7 linked regions of the Homo sapiens genome follow. The protein of the gene in region 1 purifies or fractionates together with the protein of each later gene. This does not show direct contact. Each region holds a gene or a part of one and is shown on either strand. Other genes may lie near its edges. The genes, in order: ESRP1, PAK6, THUMPD3, GPATCH8, RGPD8, MSI2 and RGPD5.

Region 1 (4,399 bases):
TGGAGTGTAGTGGCACAATCATAGCTCACTGCAGCCTCGACTTCCTGGGCTCAAGCAATCCTTGCACCTCAGCCTCCTAAGTAGCTAGGACTACAGTCTCATGCAACCACGTCCAGCTAATTTTTTTATTTTTTGTTGACATGGGGTTTCTCTATATTGCCCTGGCACAACAATCCTTAATATACTTCCTTTCCTACTGAAGTTATCTTTTTCGTTTGTTAAAATATTTTTATTTCATTTTACTTTTTGTAGAGATGGGTTCTCGCAATAATGCCCAGGCTGGTGTCAGCACTCCTGGTCTCAACCCATCCTCCCTCCTCAGCCTCCCAAAGTGCTGGTATTACAGACATAAGCCACCATGTCCAGCCAGAAGTTGTCTTTTTCTAAATTAAGATAGCTTATTAGATTTTTCCTCCACTGCCTTCTAATTTTTCAGTAGGTACTCTGGTTCTCTATTTTGTGGAAGACCAACTATCCACATTAAAAAGTTTAATATATACTTAAGAACTGAATTGTGTCCTCCACCTCCCCCAAAGTCCTATGTTGAAGCCCAACCCCCAATGTAACTATCTGGAGAGAGGGTCTTTAGAAGTTAAGTTTAAATGATGGTCAAAGGGTGGAGGGGTCTAATTAGATAGGGCAGTGACCTTGTAAGAAGATAACTCCTCCTGCTATCCCCCCAGAAAAGGTGGCTGGCTACCTGCAAGCCAGGAAGAGCCATCACCAGAACCTGACCATGCTGACACCCTGATCTTGGACATCCCAGCCTCCAGAACTGTGAGAAAGTAAATTTCTTTTGTTTAAGCTCCGTGGTCTATGGTATTTGTTATGGAAGCTTGAGCTGTCTAATACAACATTCAACCCAACAGAAAAACCAGTGAGAATTTTTCTGGTGTACTAACCTTTTTAACAAAATTCTTGTAAGAATTCTGTCACAATGAGCTTATTCCACCCTCTTCCCAACACTACTGGTCATGCTAAGCCAAAATTCCAGCTAACTGACTCCAAGAAGAAGGCAAATGAAAACGGATTTGACCTGTTTACAAGTAGTTATGAAATATATGCGAGCAAACTTCAATCAGGAAAAAAAATCGTGAAGTAACACAAAAACCAGGTTTTAATTCCTGAAAATGAATGAGAAAGTTTGGGAATAAGCATCTACAACCCACAAGCTACTGAAGTTAACTTAGTTTTAACTTCATGATGACTCTCACAGTGGCTTTTGGGAAGCCACTCAAGGTAACAATTACTCAACTTTACATCTGATATATTAGCACACGCCTGCTTATTAGTTAGCATTTGAAAGACTTAATGAATGTAAGATGACGGGTCATTCATGATTATAGATTTGTAATTATAAAATTACTTTTACAATATATCATGCATCAAATATATTATTTTGGTAACTAAAGAATGTGGGGGACAATCCAGACCCCATTTTATCATCTCCAAAGATGGCTTATTATAATCAGCATAATCTTGTATTTGAAAAACTCAGGGGAGGCTAAAAGCGGGACCAGTGAACAGCAGTTTGTAAAGGGGATATATCCACCAATTAAAAAAATTATTGACTTCATTCCAAAGAAGCCAAAATAAACCCTAAAATCACAGTAACCAAGAAAAAGTGGCCTTAGAATCTGCACTAAAGTCTTCATGTTCTTTCTGCAGCACACACACACATTACACAGCTGAAACTGAATCCTATTCTACATGTGATCACCCCACCAAAAAATCCATCTCCAAATCCGTCCAACCATCTGATTAATTATAACCACTTTCAAAGATGTCTATAATTGTATTTTAGTTTCTCAGCAGAGTAAACAAATTTTGGATAGGCCAATTTTATCCATATGCTGACAAAATTTAAAATGTTTGAAAGTTTCTTGAATTACCTTTTCTGGAACTATCTTTTCAAATGATTCTTGAGTAATGATTTAAAGGATACACTCTGTCATTGTGGCAACGTCCAGTTTGTCAATATCAGGTGAACCAGGGCAACATTTCTTGAATTCTTTTCGAAGATCAAAAAAGGAATAGAAGCATTCAGGTAATAGTACATTCTGAGGAAGGACAAGGTAGATAATGTTAACTAGGTGAATTTGGTTCAATGTTTCTCTCACAATTAGGAACCTAAAAATTGAATATAAGCATATTTTACAATGGAAAAATTTAAAATTTAATGTAAAAGTAGATTTATTTTTAAAAGTTGGTCCTGTTTCTATATTAGATCCTATGTACAAGTCTCATGAAAAAAATTCCTCTTGTTTTAAGGCAGTGGATTACAATGTTTGTGCTCCAGTATGCATTCCATTCAAAACAATTCTGAAGCTGTGATACATTTGTGCTGTTATACTTCATATTTTCTGGCTGTTAATACTAATTTTTTCCAGCCATAACCATTTTAGAACATCTGTATTTTCAGGCAGCACTAGCAGCCCTTTCAGTTTTCACACAGGTGTGGGATTAGATTGTAAAACTGGGTAGTTCTAACTATTGGGTTCTAATAATGCATATTTTCAGTAATAAGTGAGATTAGAATAGTAAATTCCTGATTAACTGAAAAGGCTTATTTCTGTGCCAAATAATAGTCCCACATTAGTCTTCTTGAACAATATTGTAGCTGTACCTGTGAACTCAAATTAGACTTCAAACACAAACAAAAACAAACTCACAAATCCCAAAGGCAAAGGAGAAATGGTTACCTGCTGTTCTTAGCTATTAGGACCACTACCGTGGCTACGAAGCAAAGCTCAACTGTCTGGACAAATATTACACTATTGTTTCCTTTGTTTTTTTTTTTCTTAACAAAATAACCCAGCATTGGATAACTTTTAAAGATAATCCTTTTAAAAACTCAATTCAGATTTTTCTTAAAATTTTGAAATTGTGTTAATTTGCTGGGAATTTTTACCCATTTTTACATTAGAACATCAAGGAAATTAAGACTTTTAAATGTTAAATGTTCATGCAAAATATCTCCTCTCCAAGTTCCTTCTATTGGATTTTACTAGATGTGACCTGTTCATGCTGTATTTTGAAATCAGTATTGCTGCATCATGGTCACAGCTTTTAAAAAAGTTAACAACCAAAAGAACCATGAAACCTCCCTATTACCTACAAAAATGCTCATTTAAAAGCTATTTGTAAGGACAATAACTCACATGTTCAACAATAATCAGTTTAAATTGTTGTGTCCATTTAAAATACTGAGTATTTTATTTAGTGGTTATAACAATGTTGATGTTCTATTAAATAATGTAGGCTAAAAGGCTTACGCCGTATGAATGCTCTTTGTAAATAATGCTTGTCTACAGAAATCTAGAAGAATATATCCAAATACATTCATGTTAGAGAAAAACATTTTAATATATTGAGTGGCAGGATTATTTCATGTTTTGCCATTTTCCCTTTTCTTTAACGAATATACAGAATTACTTTCACTATAACATTAATTGTTTTAGTTTCTGTATTTAATCAAAATTCTAATAGCTGTGGCTGAGGAAAAAGTCTTAATTTTTCTCCAGATGTTTTCCTACACCCAAAGCACTCCACCTAAATAATGAAAACAGCTATTTTCCTCTGGCCCAACAGGGAAAAGATTAAGTCTTGTCCTTCCGTCATGTGAGTTTGGGAGTAAAAAAGTAATCCTTACATATTACTATTTCTGGTAAGGATGTAGCGACTAGTCTAGCATTTAATTTTTTAAAAAAATTCTTCCCCTTTTGTCAAATAATTACTAAGACTCGTATAAAAGGAATGATTTTCTGAAGACATAACAACTTGAGTTACTCCTTCAAACTTTTTGAATTGTCATAATATATTAAACGAAATAAAATCTGCACTTACTTGCCTGGGTCGTCATTTGTCAGTCTACATCTTTCATTGCAAGCCTTGCCTTATACAGGTACCTAAATATATTCTACTTCCATCTTTTCAAGCTCGGTGCCTGCCTACCACAATAAAAAGTTACAGCTCAAACTAATTTAAGTTGTTAAGAGACAGTGTATTAACAATGATTGGCTACACTGGGTGGGTTGTCTCTGCTGTTCCTTTTCCCACAGCCCCTCAGTATTTATCCCAGGGAGAGAAATCACATTTTACCTATAGTAAGACTGTATTTCTCTCACTCTGTAATCCTCTCTCTGTCAGAAAAATGAGCAAAGGTAAAAGATGAGGCTGACCCTTTTGTTTTGATGCAAGAATGTTTTGAACATTGACTTAAAATCAGACAAAGTGAAGAGTGCTACGATTGTGGTTTCACTAGATATAAGGTTATCTTATTTAAGTAGCCTTTTTAATGAAATGATTAGAAATACAACTTTAAATGTTTAATTCTTTTTTCCTTCCTTTCTAGGATATAGCATTTCCAACACAAATGAGGATATTATGACATACTAAA
Region 2 (4,399 bases), on another chromosome or scaffold:
GGCACCCAAATAGCACAATAGGAGCAAAGCGGGGACCTGCCCAGCCTCCCAATGTGTCAGGCCAGGCCGCCTCTCCCAAGCCATCAAGTTACCCAGTGGCTGCTGCCTGCTCCTGCATGGGCCCCTTGGTAGCACGGGGGTGGGGGTTCAGCCTGGGTAGCAAGAGTGCTGGGCAGGCAGCTGGGGATCCCTGGGCTGGAAACTGACTCTGCCATTAGTTAGCTGTGTGGCCTCAGGACCCACTTTCCTTCTCTGGACCTCTGTTTCCCGCTCTAAAATTATGGGGGCTGGACGAAACATCCTCCGGGGACTCCCTTTGGCTTGAATGTGCTACAGCAATCTGAGATGGCCAGCTCTTTCCTGGGGCAGCCTTTTCCTCCTCAGAGCTCCTCTTTGCTGATCTGAGACTGTGCTCTGGTGGTGCAGGAGGCTGTGGCATAACTGGTCCCCTCGCTCCCTCCACCCTCTGTGCTTTCTTGCACAATTCCATAAGCTGAAAGAAAGAAAATGGAGGCTAGAGCCTCTCCAGGCCAGGAAGCTGAGCCACAGAACCAGTCCTCCCGGTTTTAAAGTTTTAACTCTGCTGCTGCTGCTGCAGCCTTTAGGAGTCCTGGTCACCAGGCAGGCAGGCAGGCAGCAGGAGGTCTTGGGCAAGGTGACTGGTTTGTTGCTATCTGCACTGAGTTGAGTAGGCTGGTCCCCGCTGCACTGGGATCAGAGATCAAAATACAGCACCAGCTGAACTGAGCTTTCTGAACCTGCTTCCCTGGACACCCAGAGGATCCCTCACCAGGTCCTTGACAGCCTGAAGGACACAGCTCTGCTTCCAGCCCCTTAGCAAGAGGCCCAAAGAGCTGAGTGCATGGAGGCTGTGGGCAGACCAGAGCACAAGAGATTGTTGCCTAGGCAGAGAGACACTGGGATTGGCTGACCGAGGCAGCACTTTTGGGGAATAGGTTGCCACGGAGAATCCACAGGTGTCAAAAAAAGTCATCACTGGCCCTATGTGAATACTTGGGTCTCTGCCCTGCCTGATGTGTCGTGATGAGGTTTTGTAGGAAATGCTGGCCAGCAGAGGTGTCCCTTTGCTGGGGCTGAGGCAGTTGCGGCCTCTCATGTAGTTATGAGGGAACCTGTTTTTTCACATGTGAGTTCCCCCAGCCCAAGAAAGCCTGTCATGCTCTGGGGTTGCCTTGTTTTTCTTAGGTGAATAAGCTTTAGGATTACCTTTCCTAAATTCATAGAACAGATAATCCTTTGTAGAAAAAGCAGGCTGGGTGTGGTGGCTCACATCTGTAATCCCAGCACTTTGGGAGGCTGAGGTCGGCGGATCACCTGAGGTCAGGAGTTCGAGACTAGCCTGGCCAACATAGTGAAACCCCATCTCTACTAAAAATACAAAAATCAGCCGGGCATGGTGGTGGGTGCTTGTAATCCCACCTACTTGGGAGGCTGAGGCAGGAGAATCGCTTGAACCAGGGAGGCGGAGGTTGCAGAGAGCCAAGATCGTGCCACTGCACTCCAGCCTGGGCAACAAGAGCGAAACTCTGTCTCAAAAAAAAAAATAAAAAGAAAAAAAGAGAAAACAAAAGTCTCTGAGATGGAACCTCACGATTACTGGCCTTTTTTTTTTTTTTTTGAGACAGAGTCTTGCTCTGTGGCCAGGCTGGAGTGCAGTGGCACGATCCCAGCTCACTACAACCTCCGCCTCCTGGGTTCAAGCGATTCCCCTGCCTCAGCCTCCCGGGTAGCTGGGACTACAGGCACGCGCCACCACGTCCAGCTAATTTTTTGTATTTTTTAGTAGAGACGGGGTTCACCATGTTGGCCAGGATGGTCTGGATCTCTTGATCTTGTGATCTGCCTACCTCAGCCTCCCAAAGTGCTGGGATTACAGGCGTGAGCCACTGCACCTTGCCCACGATTACTAGGCATTTCTAAGCTACTTGCCAGAGTGATCCAGGAGCCTGCCGTGGCCTTGTCTGGCCCCTCTGCCTGCCACATCACCAAGTGTATGCTTTAGATGGGGCTCAGCAGAACACAGTTCCTCATGCAGTTAGGACCAGCATGTGAAAAAAGCTTCCAGTCCCCAAAAGGAGTAGGGCCAGGGCCACAGCCCGGCTCTCGATCCCTTCACTAGGGGCAGCCCACTTCAAGTCCTCAAGACCTCCAAGTCTAGACCCCAGAAAGAGGAGTCTCAAGTTATTCCTTAGAAAGCCTCAGTGGACAAACAATATGCTATTTGGGAAAAAAATAGACCTGGCATTATTGTTTCTTCCCAGCTTTCCTGGGCATTCTGAGAGCTTTTGTTTCTCCTCAGAGGAGGGTTCTTTCAAAGTCACCTCCTCCGTGAAGCCTTTCCTGATTCCCCCGAACAAGGTATGGTCTCTCCTGGCACTTTGTTCCTCTGACACCAGTTATCATCACGGTGATAATAGTTATCTCTTGCTGAACATGTACGTATGTGCCAGTCATGCCATTCAGAGCATTCACTTATTATCTTATTTAATCCTCTCAACAACCCTAACTCATAGGTACTATAATTATCTCTGTTGGACAGGAGAGGAAATTGAGACCCAGAGACATGAAGTAACTTGCCCGAGTCACCAGGAAGAGGCAGCACCGGGCCTGAGGCTCATGCTGCTGACTTCATGTTAACCAACCACCATCCTGCCTCTTCCCGCCCTGGTCTATCTCCCCGAGCCTTCACCTCCTCCTGCAACTGCAGATAGAAGCTGCTTCTTCCTTTGTTTGTCATTCTCAACTTATCTTTTTTGTCCATCTTTATAAAGTTCTATGTTAAGAACCGTTGCCCAGTATTGGTGTAAATTTATAAATTATCTGGGCTGGATGGGTCATGGCTGCCAACTTCAGCGATGAGTTGGACCCAGAGTTGGCAAAAGGACGAAGCCACCTGGGGGCTGATGGTGGCTTTGTGGCTCCGCTTGTTTCTGGCGCGGTTGGCCCCACGCTCAGCTCAGCTTTCCTTTCCACTGCTCTGCTGCAGGGCTATGAGCATCCCCAGGGCAAGAGCTCTGTCCTGCTTTGTCCACCCCCTCTTCCTGCCACCAGTGCTTGCACCTAGTAGTCAGGCCATGGCTGTCATCTGCTTGGCAGCCTGTGCGCCAGAACAAGGTGCTGCCTGGACCCCACACCCTCCCAGGAAGAGACACGGTCCCCTTTATCTCACATCTCACTCTTCTCGCTTTAGCCCTTCCTGGCCCCTAGGGCTGAGCTCTGGTGGGGTGGAGGGCACCTCCTCAGAAGGGGACAACTTCCCAGGCCCAGGCAGACTGCTCGCCCTGGGCAGGAGGGCCAGCCTTGGCTTCAGCAAGTTCAGAACTCATTCTGCCCTCAGAAGCTTCCATTTGCAATGCTCCTCCCCAACCTGCTGGCTAGTCCACCTCTTTCTACCAAGGAGGCTCCCAGAAATAAGCTCTCTCCTTGAGGCCCGGTAGGTGCAGGCGGCCAGATGCCTCCTGATGAGCTTTACTGGTGTCCTTCCTGCTGCTCAGGTCTCAGGCACTGCTTCCGCAGCCTGGGCCTTCCTGCTCAGGGCGACGAGCGCATCTTACGGGAAGGACTTTCTGCTTCAGTCCACAGGACAGCCTCCCATGAGTCCTTCCTGCCTTCTGCACCCAGGACACTGTGTGCGGTGGGCATCTCTGGGCCATTTGGGTGAGGAATTCAATCTTTCAGTGTCTTAGCCTCTTCCCTGCCCAGTCACCTACGCAGAGGGCCTCTCCCACAGAAGCGGGCTGGCATAAGAAGGCCAGCTGTCTGGAGTCCTCCCTGAGCCCTCAGGACCCCAGGCAGCCTTTTCCTTTCCTGCTCAGCCTGCCCTGGCCCCTACTCTCTGCTCCCTCCTGGCCCAACCTGCTGCCCGCTGCTGGCCTGCTGTCTACCTAGTGCTCGACAGCCTCCGCCCCTCTGACCCCAACTGGGCAGCAGCCCCTGCTCAGCTCTGCATGCATGGAAGACTCCTAGGCACAGAGTCACCTTTTGTGAGGCAGCATGAGATACCCCCACAGCTGGGTCATTCTCCTCATCCAGGAGCCAGGTGTGGGAATTCACTGGCATGAGAGACACTTATGGGTTCCTCCTGACTCTGAGCACATGTGCTCCTCCAGGGCAGGGGACTTTTTGGTCATCCTTAGGAGTTGTGCACAGAGCGGGCTTTCCTTGGCTGGAGACCCCACCCACTGCACCCTCCCTGTGTCTGGCAAGTCCGGGAGGGCCCAGAGCACTCACAAAGCATCAGTTTGTCCTCGGGGCACTGGAGAGGCCGTGCAGTCCCCACACTCCCCCTCTCAGGTGCACAGAGCTTCCATCCAAATCAGCTGCTCCCAGAAGGGCTTGCCTCTGGTGCCGACCCTTCCCTGACCAGGCGCTCTGTCAC
Region 3 (4,399 bases), on another chromosome or scaffold:
AACAGATTCAAGATTAGAGGCATTACTGTTAGTGGCTTAACTGTTATCCTCTTTATGAAGCATCCCACCCTGAAACAGGTCAGTAGGTTTCTTCCCTTCTCTTGTTCTTCTAATCTTTTCATGTGCTGGTGTGGGACTTATCGCATGTATGATAACTATTTATCTCCCTCACAAGACAGATTCTTGGGGGTTAATAGTGGGTTCTTATTGTAACATTGGTCCTGCTCTATCTCCTTGCTCCTACTCCTCAACACATGGCAATAGAATCCTTGGCAACCCTCTTGAGGGGGTAAGCACCCTGTACTCCAAGCCATTCCTGATGGTCAGGGGTGAATATCTGACCAAAACAATGTCCATCAGATCCTCTCTTCCAGGAATTTGGAACAAAGAGCTAAAAGCCCTAGGCAGTGTGGGTTGGTCGTTTGGAATTGGAAATACATAAATTTAGATGAGAAAGCATGTAGATGAGAAGAGACAAGAGTCCACAGGCTCTAAGGGGAGATAAAAATGGCTGCCTACATTTCTGGTGGTTTTCCAAGATGTGGTTCCTACCCTTCTTGAGAACCAACATTCAGTTTTTCTGTAGAATCCCCAAGATTTCTCTTTATCTTTCCAATAAACCCCTCTCTGGCACAATTATCACTTTTTTATCCTAAACTTGATTACTTAGGTTTTAAATATTTGCACCCAAAATAACACCCTCTCTGTATCCCTGGTTTCTACCATATGCCTGGCAGTAGATAATGCATATTTGTTAAATTAATGAAGACTAGAAGATTTTCCTTTATCAAATGGGCCCAATTTTCTATTATCGTCATTGAATTAATATGTTAGGAAGATAAAAGATTGGAAGAGAAGGAATACAGTCGTGTACTGCATGACAATCTTCCAATCAATGGTGGACCAAATATATGAATGCAGTAATTATAATACCATATTTTGCCCTATCCTTTCTATGTTTAGATACACAAATACCACTGCGTTACAACTGACTACAATATTCAGTACAATAACATGCTGTACAGGTTTGTAGCCTAGGAGCAATAGGAGATACCACATAGCCCAGGTGTGTAGTAGGCTACACCATCTAGATTTGTGTAGGTACACTCCATGAGGTTCGCACAATGATGAAATTGCGTGATGACACATTTTTCAGAATGTATCCCTGTCATTAAGTGATGCATGACTGGACTTAACTACCAGGACATACCAGGCACTGTATATAATAGGTATTTTGCATATGCTTCAGCATTTAATCCTCACTAATAATCCTTTAAGTCTCACATCAAATCCATTTTGCCATCTGGAAAACAGAAGCTTTAGAGAAAATAAACATTTTCAAGTGGTGGAAAGAAGCACCCAATAAAAGAGAGAAGGGCAAAGGAGAAGGAAAGATAGGTCGTGTACTCTGAAAAGCAAAAAATTCTAGGATGATTCCTGAGTTGCTGTGAGTATAAAGCTTAAAAATATAAGTAAAAGCTCTTTCTGTTCATTTACACGTTATACACATAAAAATCTCTGCTTTCATCTTTTTCACTGCACAGAAATGAAACAGCAAAATTTACTCTTATCTCCCAACACACATATCCTTGCTAAACAGAAATGTGGTAACCTCATTCAAGAGGCAGGTGAAAACTATTACTCTCATTTTAAAATCAAGAAAACCGGGCGCGGTGGCTTACACCTGTAATCCCAGCACTTTGGGAGGCCGAGGCGGGTGGATCACCTGAGGTCAGGTATTTGAGACCAGCCTCGCCAACATAGTGAAATGTCGTCTCTATTAAAAAAATACAAAAATTATCTGGGCGTGGTGGCAGGCACCTGTAATCCCAGCTATTCGGCTGAGACAGGAGAATCGCTTGAACCCGGGAGGCAGAGGTTACAGTGAGCTGAGATCTCGCCACTGCAGTCCAGTCTGGGCGACAGAGTGAGACTTTGTCTCAAAAAAAGAAATAAAGAAAACTGAGCCACCTATTAAGCAGTATTTTCAGATCACAAGGAGTCAATATTGGATAGAAGGGAAAGAAATAGATCATTAGCTTTCCATTCTATTCTTTATCCACTCTATTCCAACACAGTACCTCAAACACACATACACACAAATCAGTATTTTGAAGGGAACATTCAAACCAAGGTGCCACTTTAAGCTGGATGGCAAACTCATTTTCTTACCTGAGCATCCCATAGGCAAGAGTTGATCTAAGAGTTGTAGGTCCAAAATGTGTTATATTTCTTCGGTGGAGACTCTCTTCAGTCAATGCAATGCCCACAATGACTTCATTATCATGGATGTTCAAAAGAACCTATAGCAAAGTGGAACAAGACAAAATAGTTTTAGGATTGTTCAAACTGCGCTTAGTAATAAGACTTTTCTGACCTGGGCCGGTTCACCCCTCCTTAGGCAACCTGTTGGTCCCCTACTCCTGGGAGGTCACCATATTGATGCCAAACTTAGTGCAGACACCTGATTGGCATAGCGCACCACAGCCCAGAACTGTCTAAAAAGTTAAGACATTTAAAAAATACATATTAAAAAACCTCTAAGCCTTCAAAATATGTTTGTGTTATAAAAATTGGGGTGAAATCTGGTTGTAGCCAATAAACATAGTGAATTAAAAGAAAATAATAGATATTAAAATGAACGAAAAAAACTATATACTATATGATTTCATTTATATGAAGTTCAAAAATTGGCAAAACGAATTTTTGGTGGTAGCAGTCAGATTAGTGATTGCCTTGAGTGGGTACTGACTGGGAAAGGGCAAGGGGAGCCCGAGGTACTGGAAATAGTTTGTATCTCTATCTGGATGCTGTTTACACATCGTGTATATAAGTAAAAACTTACTGAAAACTTAAGATTTGTGTACTTAAGGGGTGCAAAGTGTATCTCAACAAAAAAGTTTTAAAAATTGGTAAAGTCTCAAATAAAAAGTCTTATTACACTGAGTGCAGTGGCACAGGCCCACAGTCCCAGCTACTCGGGAGGCTGAGGTGGGAGGACAGCCTGAGCCTGGGAGGTCAAGGCTTTAGTGAGCCATGATTGCACCACTGCACTCCAGTCTGGGTGATACAGCGAGACCCTGTCTCAAAAGTGAACTAAACTAAACCAAAATGTTCCCCAATCTTTCACTGAAAGACTTCCTGAGCTTAACCACAGCAGAAGCACAGCTGATACTCATACAGCACTTCCTAATGCAAAGCACTATTCTACACATTTTACATACATGGCCTCATCTCATATTCACATCCCCTAAGCTAGGTATTATTCCCTTTATAAATGAGGATACTGAGGCACAAAGACAGCTCCTCAGGAATTCCCTTTTTGAGACAGGGTCTCACTCTGTCGCCCAGGATTGAGTGCAGTGGCATGATCACAGATCACTGTGGCCTGGACTTCCTGGGCTCAAGCAATCTCTTACTTCAGCCTCCCAAGTACCTGGGACTATAGGTGTCTGTCATCATACTCAGCTAATTTTTTTTTTATTTTTTGTAGAGACAGGGTCTCCCTATGTCGCCTAGGCTGGTCTAGAACTCCTGGCCTGAAACAATCCTCCAATCTTGACCTCCCAAAGTGCTGGGATTACAGGTGTGTGTCACCACACCCAGCCTCCTCTGGGATTTAAACCAATGCAGCACGGCTCCAGAAACTCCTCTGAATCACCTTGCTAACTTTTAGACATCACTGTTCTGGTTAACCTATTCATTTTATTTTTTAAAATATTTATTTTATTTTTAGTGGAGACAGGGTCTCACTATTTTGCCCAGGCTGGTCTCAAATTCTTGGGCTCAAGCGATCTGCCTGCCAAGGCCTCCCAAAGTACTGGAATTACAGGTGTGAGCCACGTATTCATTTGCAAGGCAGTGTATGAGGAAAAAAAGGAATGGGGAATTAGACTCCTGATTTGACATGCACAAAAAAGTTAGAATCAGTGACTTGCCCCAGATTCAAGTGTCCCAAAAGCAACGGAAATTGACTCTTTGGTAAATATATCAGCTGCTAGAGATGTTTTAAGGTGTCAGAGACTTAAATACTTTAGTTCCTATGGTTCACATGTCAATCACCCAGATAAAAGAGGATTAAGACCAAGGAAAGTAAATATACTAAAATGAGGTACCTGGCTTTGGAAATCTAGCAGAATTTAAGAAAGAGGAGAGCTGACTCTAGGATGAGTATTAGCAATGATGTCCTGGTTTGAGAAGGTCAGGGTTTGTTTAAAAAATGCACTTTTTTTTTTTTTGGAGATGGAGTCTTGCTCTGTCACCCACGCTGAAGTGCAGTGGCATGATCTTGGCTCACTGCAACCTCCACCTCCCTGGTTCAAGTGATTCTCCTGCCTCAGCCTCCCCAGTAGCTGGGACCACAGGAGTGTGCCATCATGACGGGCCAATTTTTGTATTT
Region 4 (4,399 bases), on another chromosome or scaffold:
ATTTTATATAAACATAAGCCTATAAAAATAATTCACATCCAGCCTTGGGCACCATGATGAAACCCTGTCTCTACGAAAAATACAAAAATTAGCCAGGCATAGTGGCATGCCCCTGTGGTCCTAGCAACTCAGAAGGCCGAGGTGGGAGGATTAATTGAGCCCAGGAGGTCGATGCTACAGTGAACTGTAATTGCACTACTGCACTCCAGTCTGGCCAATAGAGCAAGACGCTGTCTCAAAAAAAAAAAATAGTAATATTAATTTAGGCAATTACATATATATCAACTTATGTATATGTGTGTATATATGTACACATACATATAACTCCATATATACGTGTATGTATTCCCTATATTTGAAAGATACATATAAAATCCTAAGTTAATTCTTTCCTTAGATATCTTATAGTATTTATTGTACCACTGTCTTCTGGAGTTGAGAGAGAGTGTGAGAGAGAGAGAGAGAGAGAGAGAGAGAGAGAGTGTGTGTGTGTGTTGTTGAAGAGATCAAAGGCTGGCCTGATCTTCCCCTTCTTGATTGTTTTTGCCTAGCTGCTGAAAGGAGTCTGTCTTTAAGATTCAATAACTTTACTACACTATTGATTGTCACTGATTGTTCTGGGACCATTTTCATTGTCACACTATGTGCCCTTTCTTGTCCTGTGTAGTTGAGTGGATCTTCCTTTAGTGAGCATGTGCTGATAGCCTTTTTTTTTTTTTTTTTTTTTGAGACAAGGTCTCACTCTGTCACCCAGGCTGGAGTGCAGTGGCGCAATCTTGGCTTACTGCAGCCTCTGCGTCCCAGGCTCAAGTGGTCCTCCCACCTCAGCCTTTCAAGTAGCTGGGACCAAAGGCAAGTGACACCATGCTCAGCTAATGTTTTGTATTTTTGGTAGAGCCGGAGTTTCACTGTGTTACCCAGGCTGGTCTTGAACTCCTGAGCTCAAGCCATCTGCCTGCCTCGGCCTCCCAAAGTGCTGGGATTACAGGCGTGAGCCACCGCACCTGGCCTCAGCCTTTTCTTAGATCTGCCGCAATTGGGCAGAACTTTTTGCTTTTCTCTATGTGCATTCTTTGTACTGCAAATGTTTCCTCATCCACCCTAACCCAAGTTCATCCCTTTGTTCTTCCCAGATCTCAGAAATTCTTGATGAGTGCAAGAGATGTAGGTATATTCATTTCAGAGGATCCTTTTATGTACAGGATATATGTTTTGCCATTTTCTGAAATTGCCACCTTTGGCTTTTTTGATATTGCTTAGCTTTGCCTTGTCTGGCTTCTACTACATTTCCCTCATTCAGGTTCTATAAAGAGCTTAACTTTCCTTCTGTGTGTTTTTCATACTCCAGATCATATCTGTTGCCCAGTTCTTCTGAAAATGCAGTTGGTGGGGTTTTTTTAATTCATAATTTTGTTTTTATGATACCCAAGAAGAAAATCAAAGCTGTTTTCCTATACTGCTGTATTCATACCAGGAACTCTAGTTTTGTTGCTTAAATTTGCAGCCAGGTGTGGGGGCTGACACCTGCAATGTCATCACTTTGGGAGTCCAAGGTGGGAGGATCACTTGAGCCCAGGAGTTCATGACCAGCTTTGGCAGCATAGTGAGACCTCATCTCTACAAAAAATACAAAAGTTAGCTAGGTTTGCTGGTACACGCCTATAGTCCAAGATACTTGGGAGGCCGAGGTGGGAAGATTGCTTGAGCCCAGGAGGTGAAGACTGCAGTGAGCCATGAACTGCACTGTACTCCAGCCTGGGCAAAAAAGCCACAAGTCGTTTAATAGCCAAACAACATGAAACTGTCCGGGACTGTCAAAGAAAATTATTGTGAAGGATTAGATAGGGCAAAAATAACAATGTGCTACACATACTCACTTTTCAGTTTTAATAAGTCTGTCCAAATTAGTTCAGTACTGCCACTCCAGAAAATAATAACCTTTTCTTGTTTACTGATTAAGTAGCTCTTATGGGAGATGATAGAGCTGCTTTGAAACTGTAGATATAGTCTTTGAGATAAGACTTATCTTTTTTAGGTCAGTCTGCTAGAAGGAGTTGCTCATTATGAAAGTAATGCATCTACCCTGCTCTAAAAGTCAAGCAAGTAGTCACTTAGCATTCCTGTCCCTTTCTCATCCTTCTGTGCGACATTAGCAAATGAATATACTCAACTTGCTTTGAGGTATCTTTTAATTGTTTTCTCTTTTTTCCTTTTTGAGATGTCTTTTGATGTCTAGTTTTTAAGTGAAACTGCTGAGGCAAATTGGACTGCCTTTGAGTCAGTCCCACAGTTTTTTGTTGTTGTTGTTTTTCTCCAACCTCCTCTCACATGTAAGAGTCCCACAGTTTTCAATCTCGCTGAGACCAGCAGATAACACATATCTGTGGGTTGGCTTTCCAAGCAGTGCAGCTTATATGTAGAATGACCATAGAATATTTAACTCCATCATTGGCTACAGACTCAGGTAATGCTTTTTTCCTTCGTGTCTGAAAACTAGACTATTAATACAGGTTGTATATCCCTTATCCAAAATGCTTGAGACCAAAGGTGTTTCAGATTTCAGATTTTTTGGGGGTTTTGGAATATTTGCATTATACTTATCAGTTGAGCATCCTTAGTCCTTTTAAACATTTGTTTATTTGAAGACAATTGTTAGTATGACGACACACAGATTACCCACCAAAGTACCACTTGTGTTTCATCCAGCTTTTACTGGTACCACTAAATATTATGAAAAGCCCTTTTTTGTCTTCTCAGATAGACTGTTTTCTCTATAACATTCACTTAAAGTTTTACCAAGTTCATTTTTTGTTTCTTTGTATTTCATGGGTCTTGAAGGATTATGTTGACAAAGAGAAGGCAATTGCCAAAGCCTTGGAAGACCTCAGAGCCAACTTTTATTGTGAACTGTGTGATAAGCAATATCAGAAACATCAGGAATTTGATAACCATATCAACTCCTATGATCATGCACACAAGCAGGTGAGTTGTAGTTACTTGCTAACAGAAGAAGGTACCTATCTATTGTTACAACAATTGGATTTTATGAGTATACCCCCCAAAACTTGGTGTCTATGATTTCTTGTGTCTGCCAATCTTTATCTGCAGTCATCCAACACACTTTGTTTTTTCAGTGGCAGAAATCCTGACATAGACACCACCTCCAGCCCACACTCCCACATATACACTATTTGACAAATTGTGTTTTGTAAATCTTATATAATGTTTTTGCCTTTTATTGATTTCTAAGTTTTTATTTAATTTTGTAATTCAGCTGAGGGTCACTGGGAGCTTTGTTTCCATTTCTGCTCTTAACGCGTTAAACTTTGAAGAGTTATTCAGCAGACTGTTATTTTCAAGTTCCCTACATAAGATTTCATGCTTTATTGGCTACCATTTTCTATTATTAAGTCATTTTGCTATTCAATATACCTTGGAAGTTAGATAAATTTTGAGAAGGAAAATAAAATTAGATGCTATCTTAACTTTAACAAAAAACTCTGTTGCTGCATGTTGAAGAGCTGATAAATGAATTACACTTTGCAGTCTTTGCCCCCTCCCCCGCCGCCACCCCATCATTTTAGAGGAGAAAATTGTACCTAACTAGTTACTGATATACAGAAGATGGCAATAATCCCCCTGGGAGAGTTTAGAAGGGAAAAATAAATTGTTACACCTATAGGACAGTTCTGGCTTGTTAAAGAATTTCAAGCCATTTGATCTTGGGTGACTTTAACATAACTTACTAGGTTTTTGGGGGGTACAATAGTTGTATTTGTTAAACTTGTAAATTTATGAGCATTGGAATGATGTCTCCTAAGCTGGACTTGTTGAACTAAGATTTTTTTTTAGCCTTCATCTTCCACCAACCATAAGATTTCAGTGCACAGGTAAAAGGCAATCTTTGACCAAGTTTTATTCTTACTAGAACTGGAAGAATTTGTAAGCTGGTTGTGGTATTACACTTTTTTGGAACAGTCTCCCCCATTTAAATATACCTAACCAATTTAAGATTCTTCCACTAATGGACTTGTATTCAAGACAGCTTTTCAACTTACTACATACCTTTGGACATTCTTTTCTGTTTTTTTGAGACGGAGTTTTGCTCTTTCGCCCAAGCTGGAGTGCAGTGGTGGATCTCAGCTCACTGCAACCTCCACCTTCTGGTTTCAAGTGATTCTCCTGCCTCAGCCTCCTGAGTAGCTGGGATTACAGGTGCCTGCCACCATGCCCAGCTAATTTTTGTATTTTTAGTAGAGATGGGGCGAACTCCTGACCTCGTGATCCGCCCACCTCGGCCTCCCAAAGTGCTGGGATTACAGGTGTGAGCCACTGCGCCCGGCCGTGGACATTCTTTTAATACATTGTCAGCTTTGCTTGATTCGAAGAAGAGAAATTT
Region 5 (4,399 bases), on another chromosome or scaffold:
AACTTTTGCTATATTGGATGCAGTAAATGGAAATATAGAAGATGCTGTGACTGCTTTTGAATCTATAAAAAGTGTTGTTTCTTATTGGAATCTTGCACTGGTAAGTAGATGCAGTACTTGAGCTAAAAGTTGTATTTATTTATTTATTATTTTTTTTAAAAGACGGGGTTTCTCTGTTGGCCAGGCTAGAGTGCAGTGGCACAATCTTGGCTCACTGCAACCTCTGCTTCCCAGGCTCAAGCGATTCTTGTGCCTCAGCTCCCGAGTTGCTGGGATTACAGGCATGAGCCACCATGCGTGGCCAAGCTGAAAGTTTTTTGTTTTAAAAAGCTAATGATTTCATGAAAGCACTATTTGTATAGATTTTTCACAGGAAGGCAGAAGACATTGAAAATGATGCCCTTTCTCCTGAAGAACAAGAAGAATGCAGAAATTATCTGACAAAGACCAGGGACTACCTAATAAAGATTATAGATGACGGTGATTCAAATCTTTCAGTGGTCAAGAAAGTAAGTAGCAGGTTGTTGTATGTACGTTCTTACTGATAACCCACTGGTCAGTGTTTTTGCGTTGGTCTTATATTTTGGTAATTTCAAAAATACTCAGTAATATGTTGTTATTAATGCACAGAAGGGATGCGTGTGTCTAAATGCTTAGATTTGCTTGCTTTGTCTTAGGTTTGGTGTGTCTTTTTAAACTTGGGAATCTAGGTATATGCTCTTAAAAAGTACTTCTTGGGGAATTAGAAAAGATTTCTAAGATAAGACATTGATTTTGTTATCTTAGCAGTGTAATCAAAACAAATATTATAACCTCAGGACTAATTCTTAATGAACTTTGCTGAAATTGAAAGTTGTTGCTGACAACTTAAGAGCATTTCTTCTCATCGTCATCAGCCATTATGAACGCCCTTGTTTTCTTGCTGTCAGCTGTTTGAGATTGTCATGATGATGTTAAATTATGTTCAGTCTTCTGAGTGTTTTGTTGATTAATTTGTGTTACTACTCTTTTATTAGGATTTATGTTGTCTGGTGTATTGTAGCATCTGTATTTCTGTCACCATTGAAAATCAGTTAGAAAACATCAGTAACTTATTTTGTTCACTTGGAAAAGCTTTCCAAGTTAACATTCCTCTACAATTATCATGGTTAACAGAAGTAATAGAAAGAGCATGGACTTTAGAATCAGAAGATGTTAGACTGTACAACACTTTTCTGTGTTCCTGAAGAAAAAAATAGAATAAAGACAAAAAAATAAAAATAATAATACAAAACAACAGAAAAACAAAGAAAAAAGATAATTAAAAAACACTTTCACGTGTATTATTATTTAAAGTGTAAAGTGCTTATTAAAGTGACAAAAATGTAAATAAGATAAAATATATCATTTTAGAGTTTTTACTTTTGGAATTTTTTGCAAATGAAAGCCCTTAATTAATGTCTTTTATTTTTAGTTGCCTGTGCCCCTGGAGTCTGTAAAACAGATGCTTAATTCAGTCATGCAGGAACTCGAAGACTATAGTGAAGGAGGTCCTCTCTATAAAAATGGTTCTTTGCGAAATGCAGATTCAGAAATAAAACATTCTACACCGTCTCCTACCAAATATTCACTATCACCAAGTAAAAGTTACAAGGTAAACAGGAAAGAATGGAATCATTTCATTGTGAAATTGTTTCTGTTCTAAGTGTTTTAAATGCTGTTTTGTTATTTTTATTTTTTTTTTCAGTATTCTCCCGAAACACCACCTCGATGGACAGAAGATCGGAATTCTTTACTGAATATGATTTGCCAACAAGTAGAGGCCATTAAGGTAAGTCACTTAATTTCTCTAGCTGTACTTTTTATTCCAAGATTCCTTCCCTGGCTACTCTCTCACTTTTTTTCTGAAGCTGGTCAGAATGTCCCCTTGCCATCCAAATAGTATGGCAAGGGGACATTTTGGTCTTTTTTTTTTTTTTTTAAGACAAGGGTCTTGTTCTGTTGTGCAGGCTGGAGTACAGTGGTATGATCACAGCTTACTGCGGCTTCAACCTCCTAGCTCAAGAGAGCCTCTTGGCTCAGCCTGCCACGAAGCCAGGACTACAGACAGTCACATGCCACCAGGCCCAGCTAATTGTTGTATTTTTTGTAGAGATGGGATTTTGCCATGTTGCCCAGGGTGGCCTTGAACTCCTGGCTCAAACAATCCTCCTGCTTCAGCCTCCCAAAGTGCTGGGATTGCAGGTGTGAGCCACTGTGCCCAGCCTACATACCTCGGTCTTGACCCTTTACCATATTTTGTTTTGTTTTGTTTTGAGATGGAGTCTCACTCTGTTGCCCAGTCTGGAGTGCAATGGTGTGATCTTGGCTCACTGCAACCTCCACCTCCCAGGTTCAAGTGACTCTCCTGCCTCAGCCTCCCGAGTAGCTGGGATTACAGGCACCCGCCACCAGGCCCAGCTAATTTTTGTATTTTTAGTAGACACAGAGTTTCACCATGTTGGCCAGGCTGGTTTTGAACTTCTGACCTCAGGTGATCTGCCCACCTTGGCCTCCCAAAGTGCTGGGATTACAGGTGTAAACCACCGCACCCAGCCCTTTACCATATTTTTGAAAGTACTTTATGTGTCTCTCTCCTCATCTTCCACAAAATTTGAGACCTTCAAAGGTAGAAACTGTTTTATTTAAAATATAAGAGTTCCTGACACAGAGAAGGTTCCCGAGTGATTGAAGTGCTACAATGTACTAATCATACTCTGGTCTATGAGTTCATTCCCAGATTAGCTGTGGATTACATGTGTTTCAAATGTATAGCTAGGAATCGAAAAGTGGTCTGAGCTTCAAAAAGTCTTACTATATTTTAATACTTCCATATGAATTTGACTTAATTATGTAAGGAAATAGTTATGTATATATATCTTATTTTAACAATAGGGTTCAAAGGAGCTTGACTTTTTTGGAATTGGAAATAAAAGTAGGTTCTTTCATGTTTATCAAGCAAGAACTAAATTACTCATACTGCTAAAGTTACATCAAGGATATGCTGATGTGTGGCGATTATTACAGTGTGATCAGCAGCATTTGCAAATTAAGAGAATACTATTTGGTGGGGAAGACATTTTTGAATTTGCACAAAAATTTTGAATGTTAATTCTGTGTAGTCGTGGCCTATGACAATTACATACAATTTTGACTTAACATACAGGTTTCAGGCTCCCAACATTGTATTCTGTGGAAGTATAGTGGAGCACTAGTCCATGAGCTTGAAAAGCTTGGTACTAGTACTGACTCTGCCATTAATTAATGATCTTGGGCCAGTCACTTCCTTTGTGACTGTTTGGCTTCTTATCTTTAAAATGAGAGAATTATTGAAGCCAGTTCTCATCACACTGAATGTTAAAAATTACAGTTACAGCAGTGATTGCAAATTCAAAGCTCTGGTGCGGATACCAACAGTGACTATAAAGTTTTCTAGGTGATTCCACTAGTTTCTTATTTCTTGGATGTGTATGTGTAGCATCTGGACTAGGCACTGTAGATGGATGAATGGGGGAAATTTTATTTAGCTTGAAAATTGAGATAGTTTTGGACCTCATGGTTAGGTCTTTCTGGGAAATTTTTAATTGAAACACTTGTAGAAACAGAAAGCAGACATGCTAGATCTGTCCCTGACCTCACTTGTTAGAACTGATCGGATTCCTGGGCTGATACAGAGAAGTTTGAAACTTTTCAAAATTTACCTGTTTTCTGATACCACTACAATTTCTTTGGAAAAAGAATTTCCTGTTAAGTGTCTGTTTTGTAAGGGGACATTTTGTAGGTTCTAGGGTGTTGGGTATGGTGCTGTCATTTAGTTTTCTTCAGCAGAGATCAGGTAGCCACATAGCTACACTAGACGGCATTGGATCTATCTGCCATCTTGTCAAGGCAGCAGAGTTGTGTTAAGAAAACATTTTTGGAGTCAGATGTGTTTCAAATTCCAGCTGTTATTCCCTGCATCCGTTTCTCTCATTTTAAGATAGGAGCTAATATTGTTTACCTAACAGTGTAGATGGTGTAAAAATTAAGAGTTTAAGTGCATTGGACGTATTATTATATACATAATAAATTCTCTGCAGCTACTACTTTTTTCCCTTTCCTGGTGGAGCATTTGAACATCACCTTGAGAATTAGTTGTATTTTGTTTGAACACAGGGTTAAGTGAAAAGCTAATTTGGGGAGGTGATTTGGAATGTCAGGTAGTCCAGGTTGCAGTGTAGAAAGAACACACTGAAAGGATGGTCAGTGTAATGTTAGAGGACTGTGAAAGTTGGGGAAAGAAGTTTAGTTTGTAGGTACTTGTTTTTTTGAGCAGGGAATTGTCTTGGCTGGAGGTGAACGTCAGAAAGGTTAATGTAGGCAAGTGTAGAATGGAAATGAA
Region 6 (4,399 bases), on another chromosome or scaffold:
TGCATGGAACTTCACTCCTCTGTGATGGGGTAGTGGGACAAGGCCAGAAATGGGGCTCTACTTCCATCCGCCTCTTATGAAAGTGAGCAAGACATTCCCTACCTCTGGGTCTCAATTTCCTCTTCTGTAAAATAAGTGGACCAAGGTGATCTTTCAAGCCCCTTTTGGCTTTAACATTGAATGGAAGAGAAGGAAAGCAAATAAAGAAACCTGGCAACCTTCGGTGCACTTGAATTGATTTTGCAAATTCACCCTCTTTCTCTGATCAAAGAGATCAGGAATGCGTGCCTTCTCCTAAGAAAGAAACCCACCTACACTCTTAGTTGCTTTATTAATTGTCCTGGACTTGTCATAGCTTGCATGCAGCCCAGCCTTTTGTACTTTTAGATAATTTAATTTCAGAAATGATTTGTAGGATGATAACAGATGTCTGAAAAATTTTTCTCTCCTTGATTTCGTGGCTAGCCATTTCAAAAAGCTAGTGAAATTAAAGAGGAAAATCTTTTCAAGGCAAATTTGGGAATTTATCATCCACCCCCTCTTGCTACCTGGGTGGGAGAAACAGTATTTGGTTTCTGTGGTGGCTGGTGGGTCATATTCCTCTGTATCAGGTGCAAAGCCTGCAGTTTCCCTCTCTGATTGTTTATAGACATGTTTTGGTCACTATTATTTAGTGTAACCTAGCTTTTGACTTTGTTTCAACGTTCAGTGCAGGAGGCAGAAGCGGTTGGTTTATTGACATGGAAACGAGGATCTTGTTTACTGTTACCTTAAAAGCTTTGTTTAGGTAACGGCCATTCACATCCAAAATAGTACCCTAGTCTTTTCCTAGAGGACTTGTAGATACAGTAAGTAGAGCTGTACCTAACTAACTAATGTTTTAATTTTTGGTAGTTTTCTTTTTTGTTTGTTTTTTAAAAAATAGTTGACAGGGATGTGCAAAAGGTTGGGATTTGCCATGCTTAACTTGACCCTTCCTCTCCTTCAGAGATCTCAGCGTGTAAACTTTGCACACTGAGGAACTTCGATCATGATATAATGCTCTGATACGGCCACACACCATCCAGGAGTTCTGAATTGGCTTTTTCGTTTTGTGATTTAAATTTTCTTTAGTACTTCACTTTCTTCATTGCACCTTACTTCTTCCAGCTCCTGGCACCTCCCTCAACATACCCCACACCTGTTACCCCATAAACAAGGTGATTTCTGATTGCAATTGTGTGCCGGCCAACTAAAAAAAACACCCTCTGGGGAGTATTTATAAAAAGACACCTCTGTCTTACGTACGTCAACAGAATGGAAAATCCACACCTGTTGTATTTCTCTTGTAGACAAGCGCTAGTCAGTGCTGGACACACCTGTAGATGCAGTAATGTTAATCTTTATGAAAGGGTAGTTTTCTAGATCAGAGATTTTTGTCTATTTTAGTTTTTGAAAAGTAATCTCTCATTTCTCAGGTGATGTTTAAAGGTAGGGAATGCAATGCAGACTTTTATTAGGTCTTTAAGCCCCCGTAATAACAGCAGGAAATCCTCATATGTCTTTCTGGCTGGGACCCTAGGTGATGTAAGTCAGGGAACAAATGAACTATCCTCCGTGCTTCCCACTCCCCACCCCCACCTCCCTACTTTCCTCCACAGCATTACTCTTTTCTCCCCTGCTCCTTCTCATGGCAGAAGTGAAAACAAAGCTCAGATTTACTTTTTAAAAGGAAAACATTTTAATATGAAAGCCAAAGCCTGGAAATAAATAACTGGTAGCATGTTTATACTATCTGTGTTACATTTTTACCCAAAGATTTGTGACATTTAGAAATTCAATGAAAACCGACAACGGGAATATTTTCACATTTCTTTCCTCCTCTTTTTATCTGTGCAGTCACTTTTTTCCTCCCTCACATCAGCCTGTTAGATTCACATGCTTCCAGGAGAACTGTTCTGAGCTGTACAGCTAGACCCTGATTGAGCATCATGCGTTTTGCAAGTGTGTGATTTGGACTGGAGGATGTTTTTCCACTCGGATTGAGGTTGGGGTAGGGGAATTCCCTACTTGTTGCACTAGATTCTGACTACTTCTTGTATTCAGTAACTTTTTTTTTTTTTTGGTGCCCTCCCCATGATGGGATTTCTTTTCTAATTTGGGTTTAGGTTGCTTATAGATTTTTACTCCCTGTTGTTTTTAAAATCCAGGTGGATTTAGCTCACATGCTTCATTTTCTTTACTTCAAAAAATTATTTTTTATCTTTTGAGGTATAGCTACAGAACAGATGATCTTTTTGGTTAATCCTGGGTAACTTTACTTTTGCTAAAATGAATTAATTAACTCAAGCAGAGCACTGTGTTGGATGTCTGTGGGGAGTTTTTGGATGTTGTTGATTTAAAAAATTTTTGGAAGCTCCTTTCCCTCCTGTGTTGTTTAGTTATCATCAGGGAGAAGAAATACCATCCAATTACCTACTGCTAGAGAATACTTACATTTAATTTTCAGGTTATGATTTTTTTCCCAATGATAATGATGCTCCCATCTTTTCTCCCAGCCACGCATAGCAAATTAGATGTAGATACCATTTAATATTCAGTGTCTGGAAGAAGAAGCCCTTGCCTAAATAAGAATTACATGAGATCTGGTTTATTAAGAGCATCACACACTGAAATGCATGGTGGGTCATTTCAGAAAGGCTAGCTAGCTATGTTAGTTACCTGATCTGTTGGAGGGATGGTTAAAGTTGAGATCAAAGTTTAAGAAACTTTTGAGTTGCCTGAGAAGTTACTAAAAGCTGGATTATAAGCCTGAGAAATGAGTGATTAATAATTAGGTGATTAATCATATATTTTTTCCTTAAAGTACTTTATTGACTCCTGCTTTTCTATTTTTTTTCCCAGATTGACCCCAAAGTTGCATTTCCTCGTCGAGCGCAACCCAAGGTAAGTAGGAGAATAAACAGTAGGATTTTAGCACTCAGAGATGATTGCCAAGAATTTCAAATTTCAAACAGCATTGGCCATGAACTGTTGAAGCCTGGTATTCACTGTTCCTTCGGGGTATCAGGACAGGCTGGGCAAGTAGTCCTGTGAGATAACCATGCGTCTCTAAGTTAGCCATCCCAAGGTGGCTTCTGAACATCCACCTGGGGGCAGGGACAAGTCTGATGCTTAGTGGGAGGACGTGTTTCCATCGACTGCAGTATTTTTTGCAAGGATTCTATTTGTTTTTTAAGCATTTCCAATATCATATCAGGAAAAGTCGAACATTTCCTTGTGACTCTTTCGGAGGGTACTCTTTGAGGCTTTACAACTTGGAGTTAATGCAGAGGAGTAGAGTTTGACTAAACAGCTGATCCTTTCTTGGAAAAGACAACTTCTTAGGCCCATAAAGCCTTAAATCTGGGAGGGCAAGCAGTGGATATCTTGGTTTTAGGTTGGTTGGATAAGTCAGGGCATACTTGAAACCAACAGTGCTTCTTATTTGTGCAAGTGCTGGTGCCTGGGTGGAGAAGTCCTGAAAATGTTGTAACCTTGTAGGAGTGGCACTACAAGACTTGCTTAAAGAATTGAGATAGGGCTTCACTTTTTTAGAAGTGTGTCGTTAACATAGTTTTCACTGAGCTTGCCAGGTGTGGCTATGAGAACACAGTTGCTTGAAGCCTAAGGTTAAATTGGAAGGGCTTATGGCTTACATGTTACATTTACACTTTTTAGTTACTATTTTTCTTCCTTATGTAGCACTGGAAGAAATGCTTTTTATGTATCTTCGGGATTTGTCATTCTTTTAGGGAAAGGGGAAAAGTTGAAGCTTCTAAGTCGGAAAAGGTTGTGGCTTTAGCAAATTCAGTTTATTTCTTTATGCACAGTCTCCCAGAAGTGGAACCTTTTAATCGTGTAAAGAGAGGAATGGTTTTGCACATTAGTATAGAAAAAGTTGGTGATTGTGATGGTACTTTGAGAATTTCAGGTCTGGGGCATACCACTTGATTGATTGATTCCTTCCTTCCCTCCTTCTTTCTCTCCCTCCCTCCTTGTTCTCTTCTCCCTTTTTTAAAGATGGAAACACAACTTTTTAAGTAAATACAATGAAATATTTTCTTCAGGCATTTTTTTGTAATGCTTAAGCAAATGATAGGAATTAATGATTAGGTTATTTTTGTACTTAGCACAAACTTTGGAATTGCCCTTATTGTTTTAGTTACTTCCCAAACTGTCTGTGATCCTTCACATTTCAGAGGGCTTCCCAGAGTTAGCAGTATTTCCTGGGTTTGGAGGAATTGCTGTTTCTTCCATAAGTGTGAATCTTCAAATTTCCAGGTTAGTCATTTGATCACTCAGAGCTTGGATCAGATTACCCAAGAGGGAAGCTGGAAAAATCCCTTACTTGGTAAAACCATGGGTTTGACCTGTTTTT
Region 7 (4,399 bases), on another chromosome or scaffold:
ACTATTCATCGTTTTTGGACATTCACTGGGGTCTTGGAATTTCAAAAATAAGATGTTTGAGTAGCTGTATACTCTATCACATGGATGGAACATACTCTGGTTGTATCAGCATTTTTTTTTTTTTTTGAGATGGAATCATTCTGTTGCCCAGGTTGGAGTGCAGTGGTGCGATCTTGGCCCACTGCAGCCTCTGCCTCCCGGGTTCAAGCGATTCTTTGCCTCAGCCTCCCAAGCAGCGGGGATTACAGGCGTGTGCCACCATGCCCAGCTAATTTTTGTATTTTTAGTAGAAAGGAGGTTTCTGTATGTTGGCCAGGCTGGTCTCGAACTCTTGGCTTCAAGTGATCCACCCGCCTCAGTCTCCGAAAGTGCTGGGATTACAGATGTGAGCCACCGCACCCAGCCTGGTGTGCATCAGCATTTTGGACTTTGGAGTTTATGTAACCAAGGATCCAGGCTGTGGACCTCGTTTATTACTTGAAGAATTCAATATTTATTTCTGCCTTTTTGACTCCTTGACTGTAAAATACTGATCTGATCTGTAGAGAGAACAGTACATGGACCCGGGAATCCTCAGTGCCTTAATAGATCCTAAGTACTTACTTATTCTTTCCCATAGAGGCTTACACATGGTAGGAGAAGAGATTTCTGGAATACCTTTCCTCCCCAAAGAAAGCTGGTTTCTTTTGTTTGTTAAGTGAGAGAGTGGTACCACAGGGTTTCCAAGATTTCCAAGGCTGATGAAAATTCTTAACTTCTGTTGTCTGCTTGTCTTGCTTTCTTGAATTTATTTTTTGTATGTTATGTATTTATTATTTAGAGAGAGGATCTCCCTGTGTCACCCAGGCTGGAGTGCAGTGTTACAGTCATAACTCACGGCAGTGTCAACCTCCTGGGCTCAAGTGATTCTCCTTCCTTGGCCTCCTGAGTAGCTAGGAACACAGGCATGCTCCACTATGCCTGGCTATTTTTTTCCCCCTGGAGACAGGATCTTGTTGTGTTGCACAGGCTGGTTTCAAACTCTTGGCCTCAAAGCTAGCCTCCCACCTTGGTCTCTGAAAGTGCTAGAATTAAATAGAATTAAAGGTGTGACCAACTGCACCCAGCTTATTTATGATGATGATGATGATGATGATGATGATGATGATGATGATGTTTGGGAGATGGAGTCTCTGTCGCCCAGGCTGGAGTGCAATGGCACGATCTCAGCTGACTGCAACCTCTGGCTCACTGCAACCTCCACCTCCTGGGTTCAACTGATTTTTGTGCCTTAGCCTCCTGAGTAGCTGGGATTACAGGCACCCGCCATCATGCCTGGCTAATTTTTCTATTTTTGTAGAGACGGGGTTTCACCATGTTAGCCAGGCTGGTCTCAAACTCCTGACCTCAGGTGATCCGCCCACTTCGGCCTCCCAAAGTGCTGGGATTACAGGCATGAGCTGCTGCACCCAGCTCTATTTTTTGTTTTGTGGTAGGAAATTATAAAACATGGAATTATGCATTTGTCAGGCTTTAACTACTTTTGAAAAAATGTTGGAAAATATTTCTGTATGAAACGTAAAACAACTTTTAATTTTTTTTTAGAAGTCAATGAAAGGATTCTATTTTGCAAAGCTGTATTATGAAGCTAAAGAATATGATCTTGCTAAAAAGTAAGTACAAACCGTAACATGTATTCTTTTTTTTAAAATCAATGCCTTTTCTCATTTTCTTCTTTGAAATAGGTAAAAATATGTCCTTAGTAGTTCTTCCTAAGTGTATTCTGGAATAAGGGATTTATCACTCAGACTGATGCTAAGGACCAGCCTAGATTCCATTGAGATTGAAACTGTAATTAGTGTTTTCTGCATGCTGCTGCTTTATACCAAGGGCAAGAAATTGTTTGGCTTAAAACACTTTTTCTAAAAATTGTCTTCTGTTGGAGTAAAAGAGGACCATGCCTATATCTTAATTTGTTTTTGGTTAGATATCTGATACCTTAATCAGATGGAAAATAGCAATGAATAAAAAATTAAACTGTAATTGTAAGGCAGGAGAATAGCTTGTATAAAAGATCTTTAACTGACACAATATGTGATGCTCTAAGGCTCTATCCTAGGGATGAGAAGCTTGGTGATTCTGATTTCCTGGCTGGGAGTGGATTAAAGCAGGAAATTAAGAGGGAGGCAGGCTTTTTTTTTTTTTTTAGGCAGTATCTGTCTCTCTTGCTCCGGCTGGAGTGCAGCAGCTGGCTCCATCTTTGCTCACTGTAACCTCTGCCTTCTGGGCTCAAGCGATCTTCCCACCTCAGCGCCCCAAGTAGCTGGGGATACAGATGCGCACCACCACGTGGACCTGGCTAAGGTTTGCATTTTTTGGTAGAGACAGGTGTCACTATGTTGCCCAGGCTAGTCTTGAACTTCTGAGCACAGCAGTCTGCCTGCCTCGGCCTCCCATAGTGTTGGGACTACAGGTGTGTGTTACTGCTCCCAGCTGGGAGGCAGGCTTTTAAAGGCATCCAAAGGAAGATGGAAATGCTGGTAAGAAAGGAAAATGGTGGTACATAAATTATGTAACTAGCAGCACTGTGACTGTTAACTCTTGTACCTTTTTACTGTGAGACTTTAATCCCTTAGTTTAGGTCTGGCCTAATTTCTCTGATCGTAATACTGTCAAGGAACCTAGAGGATATTTACTTATTTTAGTTGTTACTTGATTTGAGAAATGGAAATTTCCTGTATTTGGTACTGTAATTAGTAATTTTTCTTCTGTTCGATTTTAGCTGGATATAGTACTGTTAGAAATTACTTTCTTGCTTAAAGGGTAAATGTATTTCCCTTTGTTGTTTGGGAAATTGTTGCTGTTTAGTATTTTGCATTATGATAACTTTAAAAATGTTTATTATAATCACTTCTAATTTATTGGCAAAACTGTTAGTGCTTTATTAAAATGTGATCAGGAAGAAAAAGCAATCTATATGTTCATTTCTTATGTGTGGTTAACACTGGAGAAAAATTTGGTAAATGTGACATTTAATGGTAAAATGAGTATGTGGTCAACTCTATGTACGTGTTTTTAAGTATTACCCATTTCTTTCTATGAATACTTTTGAGTTATCTGCATAAATAGTGGTAGTTTTGAGTAACAATATAAACGAGTTTAGTGGTTGCTTTGGTTTAAGATGTATTCTTCGGTTAGCATTTAAAAGTACAGTTCTAAGTTTAATTTACTTTTGTATTACTTTTAAAAAACAGATACATATGTACTTACATTAATGTGCAAGAGAGGGATCCCAAAGCTCACAGATTTCTGGGTCTTCTTTATGAATTGGAAGAAAACACAGAGAAAGCCGTTGAATGTTACAGGGTAAGTTATAAGATTCAAATATAGCCTTTGCGTAGCCAAACACATGATGCCCAGAGAAATTTATATAAGTAAGTCAAATATATTTTATGAATATCATAAAACAGGCATTGGTATCATAGTACAATTATGTGATACAGCTTGGAACAGATTTAGAATTGTTTAACACCTATAAATTGTAAGTCTAACACGGTCAGAAATGGTGTTCTTTTGTGTTTTTTGCATTCAAATGACACAAATATAATTTTTATTTGATTCATTTCTAGAAAATTCCAAGACACTTTTATTTTAACACCTTTAAAGTAACATGTTTTCTCTAGAAGTAGAATTTTTTAAGGGTTGGAGTGATAATTTTTAACCTTTATGTATAAGTATATATACTCCTACATACATACATACAATTTATTTACTAATCTTTAATTTCTTTTCTGATATTAGCGTTCAGTGGAATTAAACCCAACACAAAAAGATCTTGTGTTGAAGATTGCAGAATTGCTTTGTAAAAATGATGTTACTGATGGAAGAGCAAAATACTGGGTCGAAAGAGCAGCAAAACTTTTCCCAGGAAGTCCTGCAATTTATAAACTAAAGGTAAACAAACAAAACATAAAGGGAGAAAACTTAAGACATAACCATTTCTAATATTTGGAGTTTAAATTACTTTTCAATAGCAAACCTTAAGCTCAGGTGTTTGTGTTTCCTTTAACATTTTTCTTTTAAAAAGTGTATTAAAACCTTTCTGAGCATCTACTGTCTTATTAGGCATTGTTATACTTTATAAGTGACATCTCATTTACCCTTCTGGAATAATTAATATTTTAGGGATTTTACAGTTTAGTAGCTGTAAACTAAGTAGAGCTAAGATTTACATTAAGTTCTGTCTGATATACAATTTTTGCTTCATTAAGTGAAAATTACCTACAGGATGACAATTTAGGGATATTTTAAAGAAGAGTTTTCTGATAACTATTGTCTGAAAGTAGAAGGGATTGTATTTTGAGATAGTAAGGTTTTCAAGCAAAAGATAAAAGGTGGTTTCTGTAGTATATAAGACGTA

The links.
Region 2: the proteins of ESRP1 (region 1) and PAK6 purify together in Homo sapiens (affinity purification with mass spectrometry, with the first as the bait; one large-scale study listed by BioGRID). This does not show direct contact.
Region 3: the proteins of ESRP1 (region 1) and THUMPD3 purify together in Homo sapiens (affinity purification with mass spectrometry; 2 studies listed by BioGRID and IntAct, with this or other methods). This does not show direct contact.
Region 4: the proteins of ESRP1 (region 1) and GPATCH8 purify together in Homo sapiens (affinity purification with mass spectrometry; 2 studies listed by BioGRID and IntAct, with this or other methods). This does not show direct contact.
Region 5: the proteins of ESRP1 (region 1) and RGPD8 purify together in Homo sapiens (co-immunoprecipitation; 3 studies listed by BioGRID and IntAct, with this or other methods). This does not show direct contact.
Region 6: the proteins of ESRP1 (region 1) and MSI2 purify together in Homo sapiens (co-immunoprecipitation; one large-scale study listed by IntAct). This does not show direct contact.
Region 7: the proteins of ESRP1 (region 1) and RGPD5 purify together in Homo sapiens (affinity purification with mass spectrometry, with the first as the bait; 2 studies listed by BioGRID). This does not show direct contact.

Annotation. Positions count from the first base shown.
Region 1 is NC_000008.11:94,643,829-94,648,227, reverse strand, and holds part of ESRP1 (epithelial splicing regulatory protein 1), read right to left. Parts: intron 2,061-4,399; coding exon 1,946-2,060; intron 1-1,945. UniProt on the Homo sapiens protein: mRNA splicing factor that regulates the formation of epithelial cell-specific isoforms. Specifically regulates the expression of FGFR2-IIIb, an epithelial cell-specific isoform of FGFR2.
Region 2 is NC_000015.10:40,241,570-40,245,968, reverse strand, and holds part of PAK6 (serine/threonine-protein kinase PAK 6), read right to left. Parts: intron 1-4,399. UniProt on the Homo sapiens protein: Serine/threonine protein kinase that plays a role in the regulation of gene transcription. The kinase activity is induced by various effectors including AR or MAP2K6/MAPKK6.
Region 3 is NC_000003.12:9,372,420-9,376,818, reverse strand, and holds part of THUMPD3 (tRNA (guanine(6)-N(2))-methyltransferase THUMP3), read right to left. Parts: intron 2,304-4,399; coding exon 2,173-2,303; intron 1-2,172. UniProt on the Homo sapiens protein: Catalytic subunit of the THUMPD3-TRM112 methyltransferase complex, that specifically mediates the S-adenosyl-L-methionine-dependent N(2)-methylation of guanosine nucleotide at position 6 (m2G6) in tRNAs.
Region 4 is NC_000017.11:44,422,932-44,427,330, reverse strand, and holds part of GPATCH8 (G patch domain-containing protein 8), read left to right. Parts: intron 1-2,838; coding exon 2,839-2,982; intron 2,983-4,399.
Region 5 is NC_000002.12:112,395,333-112,399,731, reverse strand, and holds part of RGPD8 (RANBP2-like and GRIP domain-containing protein 8), read left to right. Parts: coding exon 1-100; intron 101-362; coding exon 363-509; intron 510-1,453; coding exon 1,454-1,633; intron 1,634-1,726; coding exon 1,727-1,810; intron 1,811-4,399.
Region 6 is NC_000017.11:57,259,268-57,263,666, forward strand, and holds part of MSI2 (RNA-binding protein Musashi homolog 2), read left to right. Parts: intron 1-2,883; coding exon 2,884-2,925; intron 2,926-4,399.
Region 7 is NC_000002.12:109,800,199-109,804,597, forward strand, and holds part of RGPD5 (RANBP2-like and GRIP domain-containing protein 5/6), read left to right. Parts: intron 1-1,584; coding exon 1,585-1,652; intron 1,653-3,233; coding exon 3,234-3,345; intron 3,346-3,780; coding exon 3,781-3,933; intron 3,934-4,399.